2 separate regions of the Homo sapiens genome follow, and region 1 is linked to region 2. The links come from fine-mapping of genetic effects on gene expression. A gene starts in region 2. The other region holds a variant in brackets. All regions are shown on one strand. Distances are between the middles of the regions.

Region 1 (8,334 bases), 490 kb before region 2:
ATGGACAACAATATGCAGGCAACAGTCATGCCTCTCAGGGAGGTTACCGAGAGCTTCATCACTGCCTGGGCAGGTGTGAGGTGGCCCAGGGAAAGGGGGCTCAGCATGAAGTCATGAGCAGTTGACCATCTTTATCGAGTATGTGTGTGTGTGTGTGTGTGCATGAGAGAGAGAGAGAGAGAGAGAGAGAGAGGAATTTTTTTTTGGCTAGGTTGCTCTGGATTCTGTCAAAATGACATTCATGCTTCTCATGGTCCCCACCAACACTCCAGAAGAGATGAGAGCAAAATGCAATAAAATCAAATCCAGGTCCACATGGCAGCCCTTCCCATAGATGGTTTTGTTTTTCAAGATCATGAAAATGACACAGGCTAAGAATTCCCAAGCCCATCCAGAACAAAAATCTAGCGTACTTGAGATTAAAAAGCTTGCTCTAAAATGAATTTTAATTTCTTTTATCTTCTACTCTTCCTTCTCATCCCTCCTACCTTCCCATCCCTTCTTTTCCTCTTTCTGTTTCCTCTCTTCTTTCTCCTTCTTATTTCCAGGAAAGGAAGGAATGTTGGGGGTCAGGAATCAGATAGTTGTGAAAGTTCTGCTCTGGTGCTGTTACTATGGTTTGAATGTATTGGAAACTTAATCCCCAAATTCATATATTGATTGGACATTGGGCCTTCTGGAGGAAATTAGGTTTAGATAAGATCATCAGGGTGGGGGGGGGGGCAAAATGGGATGGGTGGCTTTATAAGAAGAAAAAGAAAGACTCTAGCTGACCTGCACATTCTTGCTCTCACCACGTGATGCCCTCCACTGTGTTATGATGCAGTGAGAAGTCCCTCACTGGATGTCAGCCTTAAACTTCCCAGCCTCCAGAACCAGAAGAAATAATTCTTTATAAATCACCCAATCTAAGGTATTCTGTCATAGGAACGGACAACAGACTGAGATGGCTGTTATTTTAAGAAATAAAGCTGGCATATATTCCCCTCACTCAAAGTACTTCTAAAATGCAGATGTCCACCACCAAAGGGCATTGCATGTAGGTGCATATGCACAAACATAGACATCACCATTGCTAAATAGCAGGTACCATGGAGAACAGAGCAATGAACCATTTCCTCATATGGAAAGAAAATACCTAATAAAACCCAAGCAAAGAGTCCAAAATAGCTCCACTTTATTTTTGAGCACTCTTATGTAGAACCATTTAGCCAGGGCCAGGAATAATTGGTGCCAGGTGCCTTGTAGAGATGCCAGGTTCATGGATTTCTCACTCTCTTTATGGGAGGATGACTTAATAACACATCTTTGTCTGCTGAATGTTTGAATCTTATTTCTGAGATTATACCCAAAGATGGCAGCCCTCCTCTGCATGAGTAAATCACATTGAAAATAGGAAAAAGAGTCCAGGCAATCAATGCCTGTCTCAGCTGAAACATAATTATAAGTCCACTGTGCTTAGAGGTAATACTTTATTAAAAAGAATATCAGGACTGGGTGCAGTGACTCATGCCTGTAATCCCAACACTTTGGGAAGCCGATGCGGGCAGATCACAAGGTCAGGAGTTCGAGACCAGCCTGGCCAATGTAGTGAAACCCTGTCTCTACTAAAAATACAAAAAATTAGCTGGGCGTGGTGGTGGGTGCCTGTAATTCCAGCTACTTGGGAGGCTGAGGCAGGAGAATCGCTTGAACCTGGGAAGCAGAGGTGGCAGTGAGCCAAGATTGTGCCATTGCACTCCAGCCTGGCAACAGTGCGAGACTCCATCTCAAAAAAAAAAAAAAAAAACAAAAAAAAAAACTCTCTCTCTTTATATATATATGTATATATACATATATATATATACATATATATATGTATATATATATGTATATATATATATATATATATGTATATATATCAGAGCTACATTTTTGGTTTGGTGGCTAAGTCATAATTGTAGAAATCTATTTTCCAATAAATCCTTCCCTTGAACCTAAATATATAAAAGAGATAATGTGTGGAGCTGCTCTGGTTATATTGGGGGTTGGGGGTCCAAGGCATTGCCCATTTAGCTTCTTCCTTGGCTCCCACTTAAGCCACTACTCACCCTCCCCATAAGCTCCCCATGGAGCTCCTCTAACAGAGCGTGAAGAGTACTGACTGTTATGCTGGTTATTAGTGAATACATAGTACCCATTACTACACAGGGGGAAACTGAGGCCTGGAAAATGAAGTGTGATGCCAAAGTGTTGGAGCTGGTGCTGCTGCTGGGACCTGCCACCTCCTGTAGAGCACTAAGTGTCAGCGAGCACTAAGTATCATACTCTGTGACCCTTAGCAAGGCAGCCCCTCTTGGGACAGCACATGCACCCTGCTCCCCAACAGGAAGCGAACATTTAAACTAGTTTGACCTTGAATGTAAAGTCATGGAGTGAAATAGTCTACTTAGCAGAGCCCTTCAGGGTGTTCTCCTTTTCCTGTCAATTTGGTATTTTAGTTTTGGAAAACAAAAATATTCTGTAAGAGGAGCTCTGATTTGGTTCACAAGCCTGTGCTAGTAATAGGAGAACTTGGATAGCCAGGCATCCTACTGTCTTGCTCCTCCACACCCCTGCTTCCTCACCTTTGCCAGGTGCCACCTGGCCTGGTGGAATGGTGGGCAAGTACTGCAAGAACATGCTCTAAGCCACGGGGTGGTGCAGCCTGCCCGCCCAGGCCCCTTGGCAGGAAGCTGGCAAACAGGCATCTCATCTCAGAGACAGGACAGTGAAGTGGACAGACTCCTCTGTGTGTGTGTGTGTGTGTGTGTGTGTGTGTGTGTGTGTGTGTGTGTGCGCGCGCGCGCGCGCGCGCACTTAAATAGCATGATTTTCCTCTCTAATTAAAAAAATGAAATTTACAAGGAAAATTTATACCATATAATAAGGATAAAGAGAACGTCACTATATAGAGAAGCATTTTTTTTTTTTTGAAACGGAGTCTCGCTTTGTCGCCCAGGCTGGAGTGCAGTGGTGTGATCTCGGCTCACTGCAACCTCCGCCTCCCAGGTTCATGCCGTTCTCCTGCCTCAGCCTCCTGAGTAGCTGGGACTACAGGTGCCTGCCACCATGCCTGGCTAATTTTTTGTATTTTTAGTAGAGATGGGGTTTCACCATGTTAGCCAGGATGGTCTCGATCCCCTGACCTTGTGATCTGCCCGCCTCAGCCTCCCAAAGTGTTGGGATTACAGGCAAGAAGCATTTTAAAATACATATCCTTAGATTCTTTCTTTCCTTCCCTCCCTCCTGTCTTTATTTTCTCTCTTCCTACTTTTTTTTCACTATTTCATTTTGCCAAAATGAGATCATACTGCTTGTGATCCCCTTTTATTTACTTCATGTATTGTGAACACATTTTTTGTGATAAATACATAATAATGTGTACTTATTATTGGTTTAGAAGTATTCCTTTGTGCTGTAACTCATTCAAGTACATTTCTACTTTTTAACCTTTGTTTTTTCTGCCTTTATAAATAACATTTTTGTTACTAGTTTGAGTCCTAAATCATTGCATGTTTCTCTAGCAGGAATTCCTAGAGGTGGAATTGGTGGATATATAAGAAGAACTGTAGCGATTGTGAATAACCAGAACTATGGAACTGACTCTTCTGTCCTTAAACATTTGCTAATTACCGCACCCGACCAGCCCAATCCAGGCAGGCGGTTGATGGCAGCTCTTGGCAATCGATGCCCTCTCCATTTATCAAAGAGATAAATGGAATCATCAAATAGGAAATTCATTATTTTAAAGAGTTCATCTAAAATGGGGTCAGAGAGAGAATGTGACAAAGTCGAAAAAGCAGGCCCCTCAGAGGAGAAGGGGAAGGGGCAGGGGTGAAATGGAAATTCTCCAATTCCTCAGGCTTCCCTTTGTCCTTCCCTTGAAATCTTGTGCATCCGCCCTGACTCCAGGCCTCCTCAGCAGATGGTGCCAGGCAGCACCTTCCATTCCCTGCCCAGGGAGGTGACAAAGTTCCGGCTAGCGTGACCACAGGATGGATCTCCATTACTTCTTAGCTGATCCATGTTAAACTCAAGATGACTGTGGTCAGACTTAGTTTTCCACCGAGATTTAATTAACAAATTTTCTGGGCTGTGTTCCCTGGGGCATATTTAGAGTCATGCTCAATGTCTAACTTTCTGGGGAGTTTTCAGCTCGATGAACTTCTTTCTACTTGGACATAGCACATAGCCACAGAAATGTGTGGGGAGACTAGTGCATGAGAAGAAGCCAGCATATAACTCTGTGAATAGAAGCTCTTTCTATGTACAGGTATTTGGGGAGCAAAGGCCTCCTTTCTGCTCCTCGAGGCGGGGGGTGTGACTGGTTTCGAGAGGTGGGCTCTGTCGGTGTTGGTAGACAGGCCACCTTAACCTCCCTCAAAGGGGCAGTGGAGCAGGCTAATGAGTATCCTCTGCGAGCTTGAGAGGTGCACATGCATTCACTTAAAGCAAGGTGGGCCCCTGCCAATTTGTCCAGATTCACTGCCAGTTGGCAGTAAGATTGAATCCTGAGGAGAGACAGAGAGAGTGGAAGGCCTGGCCTGGGGTTCTGGCCTGACCAGCGAGCAGTAGCTTTCATGTATGGGGAGGCCACGTTTCAGCATAGATGGGCCGAGATGGGCCCAGTCTCTAGCAATTACCTTCATGGTTTTCTGCCAGAGGCTATTTTTTTCCAAGGGAAAACTTCCCATTTGTTTTTTGTATTTTTAAAGTGTGTGTGTGCGTGTTTGCTCTTTGTGCTAAGGGTACATGTTCAGCAGAAGGAATTGGCAGGAGCACACGCTCCCTCTCTCTCTCACTTTGCATGCTTGACCCTGAGACCTTGTGTTCTCCTGAAGCCTCTGCCACGCAATCTCTTCCATCTTCTTCCTGTCTGATGATTTCCCCTGGACTCTCCCATGGGCATTTTTATGTCAATAGATTGGAA[T/A]GTTTCTCTCCTCACTGGGAAAAGCTCCTTTGGTCTCAGTGAACTCAGAGGTGGAGAAAGTCATAAGAATCAGGGAGCCTGCCCCAAATTGCCTCCTATGATAACTTTCCACAAAGACTGGAGGGGAGGCTTCAAACATCTTCCTGCAGTGTCCAGCAAGACAGCGAGGCAGACTCCCTTTCTCCTGCCAAAGCCACGTGGAGCCAGACAGAACCACAAGCATACCTGTGGTGCTTGGAGGCCCAAGTAGAAACTTGAATGCTCACGGCTGCATTGGCAGCTTCTACTTGCCTGCCTGGATCACCGTTCCTCATGAGAACTTGGAAAAGCAGGACTATCATTCTTGCTTGACAGACGAAGAAACCAAGCCTCAGGTAGGTAGTTAGTTTCCCAAAGTAACATATTGTAGTGGATGGCAGGGTGGATGTGACAGTCAGCTTTGTTTGACTTTCAACTGAGTGGCATTATAAGGTTGCACTGGTCACATGGGAGACCTGACCATCCTGGGGACCCTGAAACACCTAGGCCTAGCCAATCATTAAGGCAGTTCATACCCAAAGCAGGATAGTTGGTGATCTGATTTTAGGTGGCACCAGGAAACTCCAACACTACCCTTGTGAGGTTCCATAATTTAGTGTCATTCTTTGGTTAATGGATTGTCTGCAATTACAATGAAAATATCTTTGTGTCTATAATCATTTAAGCAGTCATTTCCATCTAAGTGTGAATTAATTTATTGTCTTATTCAATGTAACAGCTAGCTGAGGCTTGATTTTATTTTCCTTCATGCATTTATTCTTTCAATTGGTATGCATTTAATGACCATCTGAGGACAAGATACTATGTGAGTTCAAGGAGGAGTAAGACATGCACTCTGCCCTAAATGAACTTACAGGTTAAAAGGGAACTGAAGTCACCATAAAGCAGCATACAGTAAGTGACATAAGAACAGCACAAATAGAAAAAAATCAATTGAGGGCAGGAACTGAGGTGTTTAGGGAGCACCCACTGGGGGAACCAACATGTGGGATGAGTCTTTGTGAAGGATGGTCATGATTTCAACTAGAACCTGTAGTGTTACAGAAGGCAGGCAGAGAAGGGAGAGGAAGGCATTGCCGGAGGGAAGGCAAGGAGCAAAGACATGGGGTAAGAAACTGACATGTTTGTTTGGGGCATTCACATGGTTCCCTTTAACTTAAGTATAGGGTATGTGGAGGGGAGTAACAAGAGATAAAGATAAAAGGTGTTTTGAGGCCTATATTTAGAAGACTGTCAGTGCCAGGCTAAGGAGGATGGTGTCTTACCTGGTCGGCAGTGGGAGCCTTTGAAAGTGTGTGAACAGTAAAGCGCCAGGACTCCAACTGTGTGCTAGGAATCATGGGTCAGAGGTTCCTGGAGAATGTTTATTTCAAGCTGAAATAATCAAGGCCTGAGCTTAAATAATAGTGGTGAGAACTGCCAGGAGGGAATGGTGCAGAAGATAGCCCGATATTGTGATATAATACAAAAATATATCCTTGTCTTCAGCCCTGGCTCTAGTTCCTTACATGGAGCTCTTAAAACCTTTGGAATTCCCTGAACGATGGGATGAGAGGAGTGTGTTATTTTATTCGTAAGCCCCTTTCAACCACACATGAGTGGATGCTAGTGAGATGGCTGGGGGTTGGGGGACTCTAGATAGCTTCTGGCTGGGGGCTGGTTCCCAGGAAGACCAAGACAGGATAAAAGAGTTGGAACTTTCAACCTCACTTCCACCCCTCAACCTCTGAAGAAAGAAGAGGAGATACAGACTGAGTCAATTGCCAATGGCCAATGATTTAATCAGTTATGCCTATGTAATGAAACCTCCATAAAATCCCCAAACAATGGGATTTGAAGGGCTTCTTGGTCAGCAAACACATCAACGTGTGAAGAGGGCACAGAAGCTCCATGTCCTCACCCCCATCGCCGGCCCTATGCATCTCTTCCATTTGGTTTTTCCTGAGTTGTAGCTTTTATAATACATAAGCAATGGGAAGTAAACTGGTTTTCTGAGTTCTGTGAGCTGTTCTAGCAAACCATTGAAACTGAGGAAGGGGTTGTGGGAACCTCTGACTTTATGACTGTTTTATCAGAAGTATGGGTGGCTGGGACTTGTGATTGGTGTCTGAAGTGGGACAGTCTTGTGGGACTGAGGCCGTAACCTGTGGGGTCTGAATTAACTCTGGGTACCTAGTGTCAGAATGGAATTTAATCATTGGATACCCAGTTGGTGTCTGGAAAGCTGGAGAACTGGTTGTGGGTGTGGAAAAAAACTTACATATTTTGGTGTCAGGGTGTTGTGAGTAGAAACAGATCATGTCAACAGATGGGCTCTTTTTTTAAAAAAAATTTTTTTACATTTCTTTTTTTCCTTCTACATTTTTTCTCTTTAAGCTTTATTTTTGATACACAATAATTGTATATATTTATGGGGTACAGTGTGATGTTTTGTTACATGTATGCAATGTGCAATGATCAAATCAGCACAATTGGGATATCCATCACTTCAAATATTTATTATTTCTTTTGGTGAGAACATTCCAAATCTTCTTTTCTAGCTATGTAAAAATATACAGTAAATTACTGTGAACTATAGTCACCTTATTATGCTACTGAACACTAGATTATATTCCTTCTATAATATCTAAGTGTGTTTTCGTTCCCACTCCCCCTCCTCACTACCCTCTGAGCCTCTAATAACTATCATTCTATTTGCTATCTCCATGTGATTCATTTATTTAGACTCCATATATAAGTGAGAACATGTGACATTTGTCTTTCTGTGCTTGGCTTATTTTACTTAACACAATGTCCTCCAGTTCCATCCATGTTGTTGTGGATGGCAGGATTTTGTCCTTTTTTACAGCTAAATAGTATTCCATTGTGTATATATATGAGATTTTCTTTATGCATTCATCCTTTGATGGATACTTCAGTTGATTCCATATCTTGGCTATTGTGAAGAGTGCTGTGGTAAACGTGGGAGTGCAGATATTTCTTCAAAATATTTGACTTCCTTTCCTTTGGCTACATACACAGTAGTGGATTGCTGGATCATATAGTAGTTTATATTCTTAATTTTTTGAGGGAACACTATACTATTTTCTGTAATGACTGTATTAATTTACATTTCCACCAACAGTGTATAAGAATTCTCCTTTCCCCACGTCCTCACCATCATTGGTCTTTTTTTTTGTCTTTTTGATAATAGTCATTTTAACTGGAGTGAGATGATAGCAGATGGGCTCTTGTTTAAGAGTAGTTGTGGTATATAAGGGAGAGGGAGATGTTAAAGATGGCCAAGTGTCAAGTCTTGGTAAGTTGAAGGTGTGGAAGATTAAGAGGAAGCCCAGGAGAAAGAA
Region 2 (8,277 bases):
ACTCTCAGGCCTGGCTCTCTCAGACGGAGGAGAAACAGCCAAGTTGCTTCACATCAGACTCTGCTTGAGAGAGAAATATACTTTGACAGTGTTAGTCACTAATATTTGTGGATTTGTCCATTTCATCAGCAAGCATTAATTCATATCAAGCCACTTTTTAATAATCTAGCAACTCAGAGCTGGCAATCACTCTAAAGAAAGGGATGGAGATTATTATCACCCATATACCCAAAAGATTAAAATGGTGGAAGCAGTCATGAAACCCACTTTTACTTTGCAGTAGCACCTCAATTATCTAAAGGTTATTATTTGAGACATAATTTGCAAAGCTAAAGCCTGAACTCCCTAACTGAGAACCAGAAAGTAAGCAGCAAACATCTTAAAACAACCCAGGCTGAGAGCAAAATTAAGCTTTAGAGCTTCATGCCCTGGTAAGCTCTTCAGGCTAGATATATTTACTCAAGTTATTTCAGAGTAAATAAATCAGTCTTGGAACTTTGATTATCTCCCATCAGATAAGAAATAGGAAATTGGCCAGGCAAGGTGGCTTATGCCTGTAATCCCAGCACTTTGGGAGGCTGAGGCGGGAGTATCATTTGAGCCCAGGAGTTCGAGACCAGCCTGGGGAACACAGCTGGACCTCGTCCCTACACATTATTTAAAAATTAGCTAGCCATGTTGGCGCATGCCTGTGCTTGCAGCTACTTGGGAGACTGAGGTGGGAGAATCACTTTACCCTGGGAGGTCCAGGCTTCAGTGAGCCATGATTGTGCCACTGTACTCCATTTTGGGCCACAAAGCAAGACCTTGTCTCAAAAAAATAAAAAAGAAACAAATAGGAAATCGGAAGCAAAAAAAAAAGGAATGGCCTGGAAGGGGGCAAAACATGCCATTCTGATAGTGAAGGAGAGATCAGGAAAACTACAAGAGGCAAAACACCCAAATCAAAAAGCAGTGTACAGTGCCCCATTTTATAAAGGATAATTGAGTCCCACTGCCCCTCAGAGTCCTGAAAGCATCATGGAAGAAGCTTAGCTCACACCTGATGCTAACTAATAAAGATGACTTCAGTCTTCATCCAACCTTTGTAAGCTTCGAAGGAAGGTAGGAAAACATGTAAGAAGTCTCTGGAAAAGGTAACTCAAAACAGTGTCAGTGTATAAAGATATACACTTGGTCATTTTAAAAACTCACTTACGAGAACTACCTTATTCCCTAGGTTGCCTCATAAAGCTGTTAAAAAAATATATGAGACATTGCTGGGCGTGGTGGCTCACCCCTGTAATCCCAGCACTTTGGGAAGTTGAGGAGGGCAGATCACCTGAGGTCAGGAGTTCGAGACCAGCCTGGCAAACATGGTGAAACCCCATCTCCACTAAAAAAATACAGAAATTAGCCAGGTATGGTGGCAGGCAGGAGAATTGCTTGAGTCTGGGAAAAGGAGGTTGCAGTGAGCCGAGATTGAGCCACTGCACTCCAGCCTGGGCAACAGAGTGACACTCTGTTTGACAAAAATATATATATGTGTGTGTGTGTGTCTGTGTGTGTGTGTGTGTGTGTGTGTGTGTGTATACATGTATTTATATGATATGATGTGAGACATTGTCAGTTGGAAGAGGTCTGATTTAGAATGGGCAGTTCCTCCTGAACCTATTTAGGTGCATACATCCAGCAGGAAAGAAATCAGGCTTCAATAAGATAAATCAAGATCTAAAAGTCAAGTTGAAAGGACCTTAGAGATCATGTAGCCAAGACCCTGGCAAAAAAAAGTTAGGTGACTAGAGGGCATCATTCATCTCACTGTAGAGGGGGCACTACCGCCAGTCTTGTATTTGAGAGCCGGAATATTATCCTCCACATCACAATTTCCTAGGCCAACTCACAACCCTCTCCATCCCTTCCCAAGCCTTCAGGTTGGCCCACAGGCCTGATGCACTCACCTGCAGAAAGCAGTGTCCAACCGGGGCATGCTCTGCAATGGTGGCATTGTACACCTGCCTCCAGAAGATGGGCTCATTGTCATTCACATCATCTACGGTGATGCTCACCAGGCAGGTGGCAGAGAGTGGGGGCTCTCCGAGGTCCTGGGCCACCACTTTCAGCTCCACCGCCTCCTGGACCTCTCGGTCTAGAGTCCGGATAGTGCTGATCGCACCGCTTTCGGAATCAATGGCAAAAGATGGTCCACACTCTGCGGTGTGGACCATCTTTGATTGCAGGGAGCCGAGATTGCAGGGAGCCGAGAGTTGGACTACAGTGTAGCGCAGCCAGGCGTGATCACTGCCTGCCTCGTCGGCATCGGAGGCGCTGACCCACATGACTACAGTGCCAGGGGCCGCGGCCTCGGACACTGAGGCCTTGTAATGCTGTTGGCTGAAGAGAGGTGGTTGGTCATTGAGGTCAGCGACCCGGAGTAGCAGCGTCTCCTCCGTGCTCAGCGGCGGGGACCCCGCGTCCGTGGCCACCAGTAGTAACTCATACAGATCGCGGCTCTCTCTGTCCAGGGGCCCCTCCACGCAAAGGAAAAATACCCCTGGGGGGCCGCCGGGTAGCAACGCGAAGTCTCCCTCTCCGCCTTCCAAGGACAGAGAGATGCTCCCGTCTCCAAGACCCACACCAAGCTCCCCTGTGGCCTCATCTTCCTTCTCCCAGTCACCGTCCGCGTCAGACACCGAGACGCGAGCCACGTAGTCGCCCGGTCGGGCGCCTTCAGAGACACGGGCGACGCCTCCCTCTGTGAGAAAGAGCACGTGAATTGCTGGCCGGTTGTCATTCACGTCCAGCACGGCGATGGACACGCGCACCGTGGCAACCTCAGGCTCGGCGCCTCCATCGCGGGCCTCCACCACCAACTGGTGCCAGGCCTGTGCCTCGCGGTCCAGAGGTCTCCACACTCGCACCACGCCGCTCAGCTCCTCCACCGCGAAGTAGGCCGCGTCGCCCAGTGCCCCGCCGCCGCTACCCGCCCCAGGCACTTGCCGGGCGCGGACGCTGTAGCGCACGAAGCCATTGGGCCCCAGGTCGCGGTCGGTGGCGCGCACGCGACAGACCTCGGCGCCCGGCTGGGCGTCCTCGCGCACCGCGGCGCGGTACTCGTCCTGCTCAAAGACCGGCGGGTTGTCGTTCTCATCCAGCACGCGCAGCTCCACGCTCAGGAGGCCGGTGCGCCGGGGTCGGCCGCCGTCCCATGCCTCGATCTGCAGCCGGTGCGCCGCCGCCTCCTCTCGGTCCAAGCGCCGCAGCAGCACCAGATCTAGAGGCTCCAGGGGTGACGAGGAGCCTGGCAAAAGCGGTGACGGTAGTGGCCCCGGAGTCCGGTAGCGCAACTGGAAGAACGGGCCTGCGGGGTCCTTGGGCAGGTCGGACGGTTGCACCAGGGTGTAGCCCTGAGTGCTGAACAGTCCGGCGTCCGGATCGTGGGCAACTGGCAGGCGGAAGGCGGTCCCTGGCGGGCTGAGCTCGGAGACGTCGAGTTGCAGGGAGTCGAGGGGAAAGCGGGGCGAGTGGTCATTCACGTCGTTGACGCGAATCTCCACCTGCACCACAGCGCCCAGCAGCGTGGCGGCGACGAAGCTGTAGTGGTCCCGCCGCTCGCGGTCCAGGCGCCGCGCAGTGCGGATGATGCCGGTGTCCGGGTGCACGTGGAAGTCGTCCAGCAGCGGGGAGTCATCGGAGTCCTCCGACAGAAAGAAGCCGCTCCCCTCCTGCTGCTGCGCGGCCGGCAGCCCGGCGCGGATGTCACCTACCAGCGTGTCCGGGGGAAGCCCCTCATCTACGGAAAGGGTGAGGTTGAACAACTGGGCAGAGGAGCCCGAGGCCGCCCACAGCCACACGTGCACCAAGAGCCAGAGCAGGGAGCGCTGCGTCCTGGCGCCGCTGCTGCCTGACCGCCCATGGGGTGTATCTCTCCTCCCGGGGAGCAGAAGGAGCTTCCCGACCGGAGCCCGCCGCTGCTGACGCCCTTCGCCCATCTTCCGCCCACAAGGGCTCATTTCTCCTCCAGCTCCTTGGGAAGGCTCTCGGGTAACTGCCAGCTTGTGGCAGGATCGCAGAAAAATCCAGGAGCCTCTTCAGTGTCTGAGCCAGAGAAGAAAAGACTTTGTTTGGCAAACAAACCGACGGCCCAGGAATTCCCGAGGTTACATCTGCAACTGGTGAAAGCGTCCTCTGCCTGCAGCTCACGCAGACAGGGAAGTAAGCTCTAGCTGCCTCTGCCGCGGCAGCCACCTCTTCTGCCCCTGGATTTCTTTAAACGAATCTCATCTCTTTTTCTCTCTCCTTTTATTCCCTTTACATCTGTTCCTTGTTCTACTCGGCTGGTTGTTCCCCCCTGGTAAAGTCAGGTGCATTATTTCTTTTGCCAAAAAGGAGGAGATTATATGAAGCGCGCACACACAAGGAGAGGATGGGGATCTGGCCGGAGTAGGGGGTGGAGTAAGGGCGTGGAGGCAGGGAGTCAGGGCGCTGGGGAGGAGGGAGAGAGGGAGGGGGGAAGGGAGGTCTGCGGCCCTGTCCGCTGCTCCGGGGGCGGGGCGGTGGTTCCCCACTGTGTCTCCGGGCGCCAGGGACCGCGCGACTCCTGCTCCGACCCAGCCTCCGCCGCCTGCCTTCCCCTCCCTGCCGTGTGATGCGGCGCACACGAGGGCAAACTCCAACCTGCGAGCCGCGCTCTGCAGCAGGGCGGAAGAGGAGCAAATGCAAAAGCACTGGGAGACGTGCACCGCGGGGCGGGTGGGGGACGCGCAGGCGGGGCGTCTGCCTGGGCTTGGCCAAGTGCCAAGTGATGATGGGTGCGGGGAGGTGAGAGGAGCGGCCTCTCCGCGGCCTCCCCCTCCATCCGCTTGACCGTCCCTCTGCAGGCCTGACTCTTGGCTCGCGCTGAGCCAAGAGGGTAGAGGTTATCATCACTTTGGGGTGCCAAACTTGTGTTCTCCATTTGGCGAGAGGGACTCCCGTCCGCAGCGGAAGGACAGATGGAGTCAAAGGCCGATGCATAGCTGGGGCCAGGATGGCTTTAAAGGGGAGAAGGCGGAACTTGGAAAAGCCTTCCAGAAAACCCGAGAAATCTGTGGCACACATGGTGCAAACCACACTTTATTATGCGTGCTACTACCCAGCGACGTGTGAGCCTCTTGTCACTCCCCTCTGCCACCAGGAATGACGACAATATATCCGCCCTGAGAACCCTTTTTCTACATTCAGCGCCATCATAACACTTCCAGGATGTCTGACGATGCTGACTGATGAGCAGAAAGCCCTGGTGGCTGACACCCCGCAAGCCCTCAGCGCTCCCCCACCACCCCTAGGCAAGGAAGTGTGCAAGCGGGATAACTCTACGGATACCACTTTCAAAACTAGCTTCTGTCTGAGCCGAACGCAAATGCCAATAAATAGCCATAGTCGCAGATTTCCCTTCAATTAACTATAATAATCGGTAGAAACTGATCAATGGCCTCTAATAAAGTACGCCTGAGAAAAGACTCTCTGGACTCTTAAAAATGGCTGACCATATTTAGCAAGTGGTTTCTGCAATTTTGCATTTGGGCCTGAGAGAAGAATTAATTTCCTAGATACCGTTTCTCTCCTTTAGGGAGGACCAAAAGCCCTGCATAGTGGTTTCTTGCAGCAACAACAAAATGCCTTTTTAAATGTGCAACGGAGGTGTATGTAATTGCTAATCCACAGCCACACCGTTATCTCTACCTGTGACCAAATAACAATAAAATAATTGACTTTGTAGCATATATGTTACCGAAAATGGGGACATTATTAAAATAAATTCAGCTTTCTTTCCCCCAATGAACTCTCTTTAACCATTAAAGAGATTTGTTATGAGTCTTTAGAGTCTTTTTATCTTCAGTCTCTGCATTTGCACCCTAACTAGTCCCTCCCCTCCCACTCTTGCCCCTTTATAAGTAATTCTTTTCTGTTTTTGCTATTGTTGTTGTTGTTGCTGTTTTGTTTTCTGAGTCAGGATCTCACTCTGTCACCCAGGCTGGAGTGCGGTGGTGCAATCATGGCGCACTGCAACCTCATGGACTCAAGTGATTCCATCACCTCAGCTTCCAGAGTAGCTGGGACTATGGGTGCCCACCACTATACCTGGCAAATTTTATATTATTTTATTAATTTATTTGTTTATTTTTTTTACTTTTGTAGAGATGAGGTCTCACTATATTGCCCAGGCTCGTCTCGAACTCCTGGGGCCAGTCTTCCTGCCTAGGCCTCCCAAAGTGCTGGGATTACAGGCTTGAGCCACCGCAACCAGCCTATAAGTAATTCTTGAACAAGCATCTGGATTAATGTTTTTAAAGCTGTCTCAAATCATATTACCTCCTGCTTAGAACCTGAAATGATTCCATTATACTTAGATTATAATTCAGACTCCTTCAATCAAGCTCCTTTTAGTAGTACAGGATCCTATCCATCTTTCTGACCTTGCCTCATACCACCACTCTGGACTCAGCCATCTGCCTTCTTTTTGATCTTGTACCTTTGAATTGTTAGAACTTTCCATGCCTGGGAGTTCTTTTTTCTGCTTTGGAAAGAGCTAGCTCTTTCTCATTCAGGTCTCAACTCCAATGCCCTCTGTTAAGAAAGATCTTCCCTAATTACCCTATTTCAGATAGCCTTTCTACTATAAATGCTATATCCTTTCAGTATATTTCATTCACAACACCTATCAGCATCTGAAATCAACTTGCTTTTTTCATTTGTTTATTAGATTATTACAACCTCAAAACCTTCATTCTGCTTTATCTCAGCACCTAGAACAGTACCTAGCATGTAGTGTGTCTCTATTTACTAAGTATGTGTTGGACAGACGGTTGGTTGAACCTATGGGTAAGTGAATGCATTTGTCTGTTAAAGTAGAAGTTGGAAGCCATAACCAAGAATGAATTGGCCATGAGAATCTTCACTGTAATGAATTATGTCTTTGCAATCTTACTCATCTTAATTATTTCATAGGACTTCTTGAACTTATTTTTCAGCTTCGTCAACTTACTTTGTAAACCATTGTATTAGTCTGTTCTTGCATTGCTGTAAAGAACCTGAGACTGGGTAATTTATAAAGAAAAAATGTTTAATTGGCTCATGGTTCTGCAGGCTGTACAGGAAGCATGGTGGGATCAGTTTCTGGGGAGGCCTCAGGAAACTTACAATCATAGCAGAAAGTGAAGGGGAAGTAGGCAGGAGGAAGAAAATGAATGGGGAGGTGCTATACACTTTTAAACAAACACATCTCATGAGAACTCACTCACTCTCATGAGGACAGCATCAGGGAATGGTGCTAAAGCATTCATAAGAAACTGCCTCATGATCCAGTCACCTCCCACCAGGTCCCACCTCTAACACTGGGGATTACCATTCAACATGAGATTTGGGCAGGGACACAGATCCAAACCATATCAACCATATTGTTAACAAATATTTACTTGAGTCTAAAAATAAAGGAAAAGAAGCATCTTTTACTGCATCTTTCACTGACACATTCTTTGTAAACAGTGGTTTAGTTTAGAAACAGTGGAAAACAAATGGAAAATCAAGAACCTCAGACATCTATTTTCCTATTAGTTCTAAAGCTTTATATCTCCAGCATGTACAATTCAAGGTCTCCTGTCCATTTCACAATTACCCTTCATTGAATGTCCTGAATATCCTTAATTATAGAATTAAGAATTCAATTTTGTAAAGTAAGAGAAATAAGAGCATTTCTCAGATATGTGAAAAATAATTTTAGATAATACAGAAGCCAACAGCCTGCAAGAAATAGGTCAAGGTCTGATCCTTGTAAGCGAAGCATCATGGCGTAACTGGCCAGAGTTTTAGCTTTAAAGTTGGAAAATCCTTATTCTGCTCTATAATTTGGGGCAAGTTATTTAAATCTTAAGCCTTAGAGTTTCCTCCTTTCTAAATTGGGGATGATACATCTAATTTACAGGGATGTCATGGGCCTTAAATGAGGCAATATATGTGGATTGGTACCTAGAATGCATGTGGTAAATTGTATTTTTCTTGCCCTCTGGTGTTTGTATGATGAAATGTTTTAGGAGTGAATTATTTTGGAATTCTCAGTAATATCAAACTCCGACTTCTTAGCCCCCCAGAAGGTGTGAAGGGGGAGGATATAAAATTCCCACTATCTGGCTGGATGCAGTGGCTCATGCCTGTAATCCCAGCATTTTCAGAGGCCAAGGCAGGAGGATTGCTTGAGCCCGGGAAGTAAAAACCAGCCTAGGCAATGTGGCAAGACCTTCTCTCTACAAAAAAAAAAAA

Which allele goes with the higher level. Positions count from the first base shown, and alleles are read on the strand shown. Sizes are in standard deviations (SD) of each study's normalised expression.
In carriers of allele A in region 1, the expression in fibroblasts of the gene that starts at base 4,436 in region 2 tends to be lower than with T alone (large effect, 1.1 SD a copy in GTEx).

Evidence for each region. PIP is the estimated chance that this variant, and not a neighbour inherited with it, causes the effect.
Region 1: its variant is fine-mapped to the expression of DCHS2 in fibroblasts (GTEx, PIP above 0.99).

Annotation. Positions count from the first base shown.
Region 1 is chr4:154,000,137-154,008,470 of GRCh38, forward strand. The region is part of intron 8 of LOC101927947 (a long non-coding RNA gene); the gene reads left to right. Among named protein-coding and RNA genes, the nearest start is that of SFRP2, 220 kb to the left of the region's middle. The variant T/A (reference allele first, on the strand shown) is at 4,952.
Region 2 is chr4:154,487,364-154,495,640 of GRCh38, forward strand. It overlaps DCHS2 (dachsous cadherin-related 2), which reads right to left and starts at 4,436. Exons shown (of 20, transcript NM_001358235.2): 1 at 1,941-4,436. The coding sequence starts at 3,992. RefSeq lists enhancers at 2,264-3,220, 3,221-4,176, 3,645-3,784, 3,835-4,014, 4,817-4,866.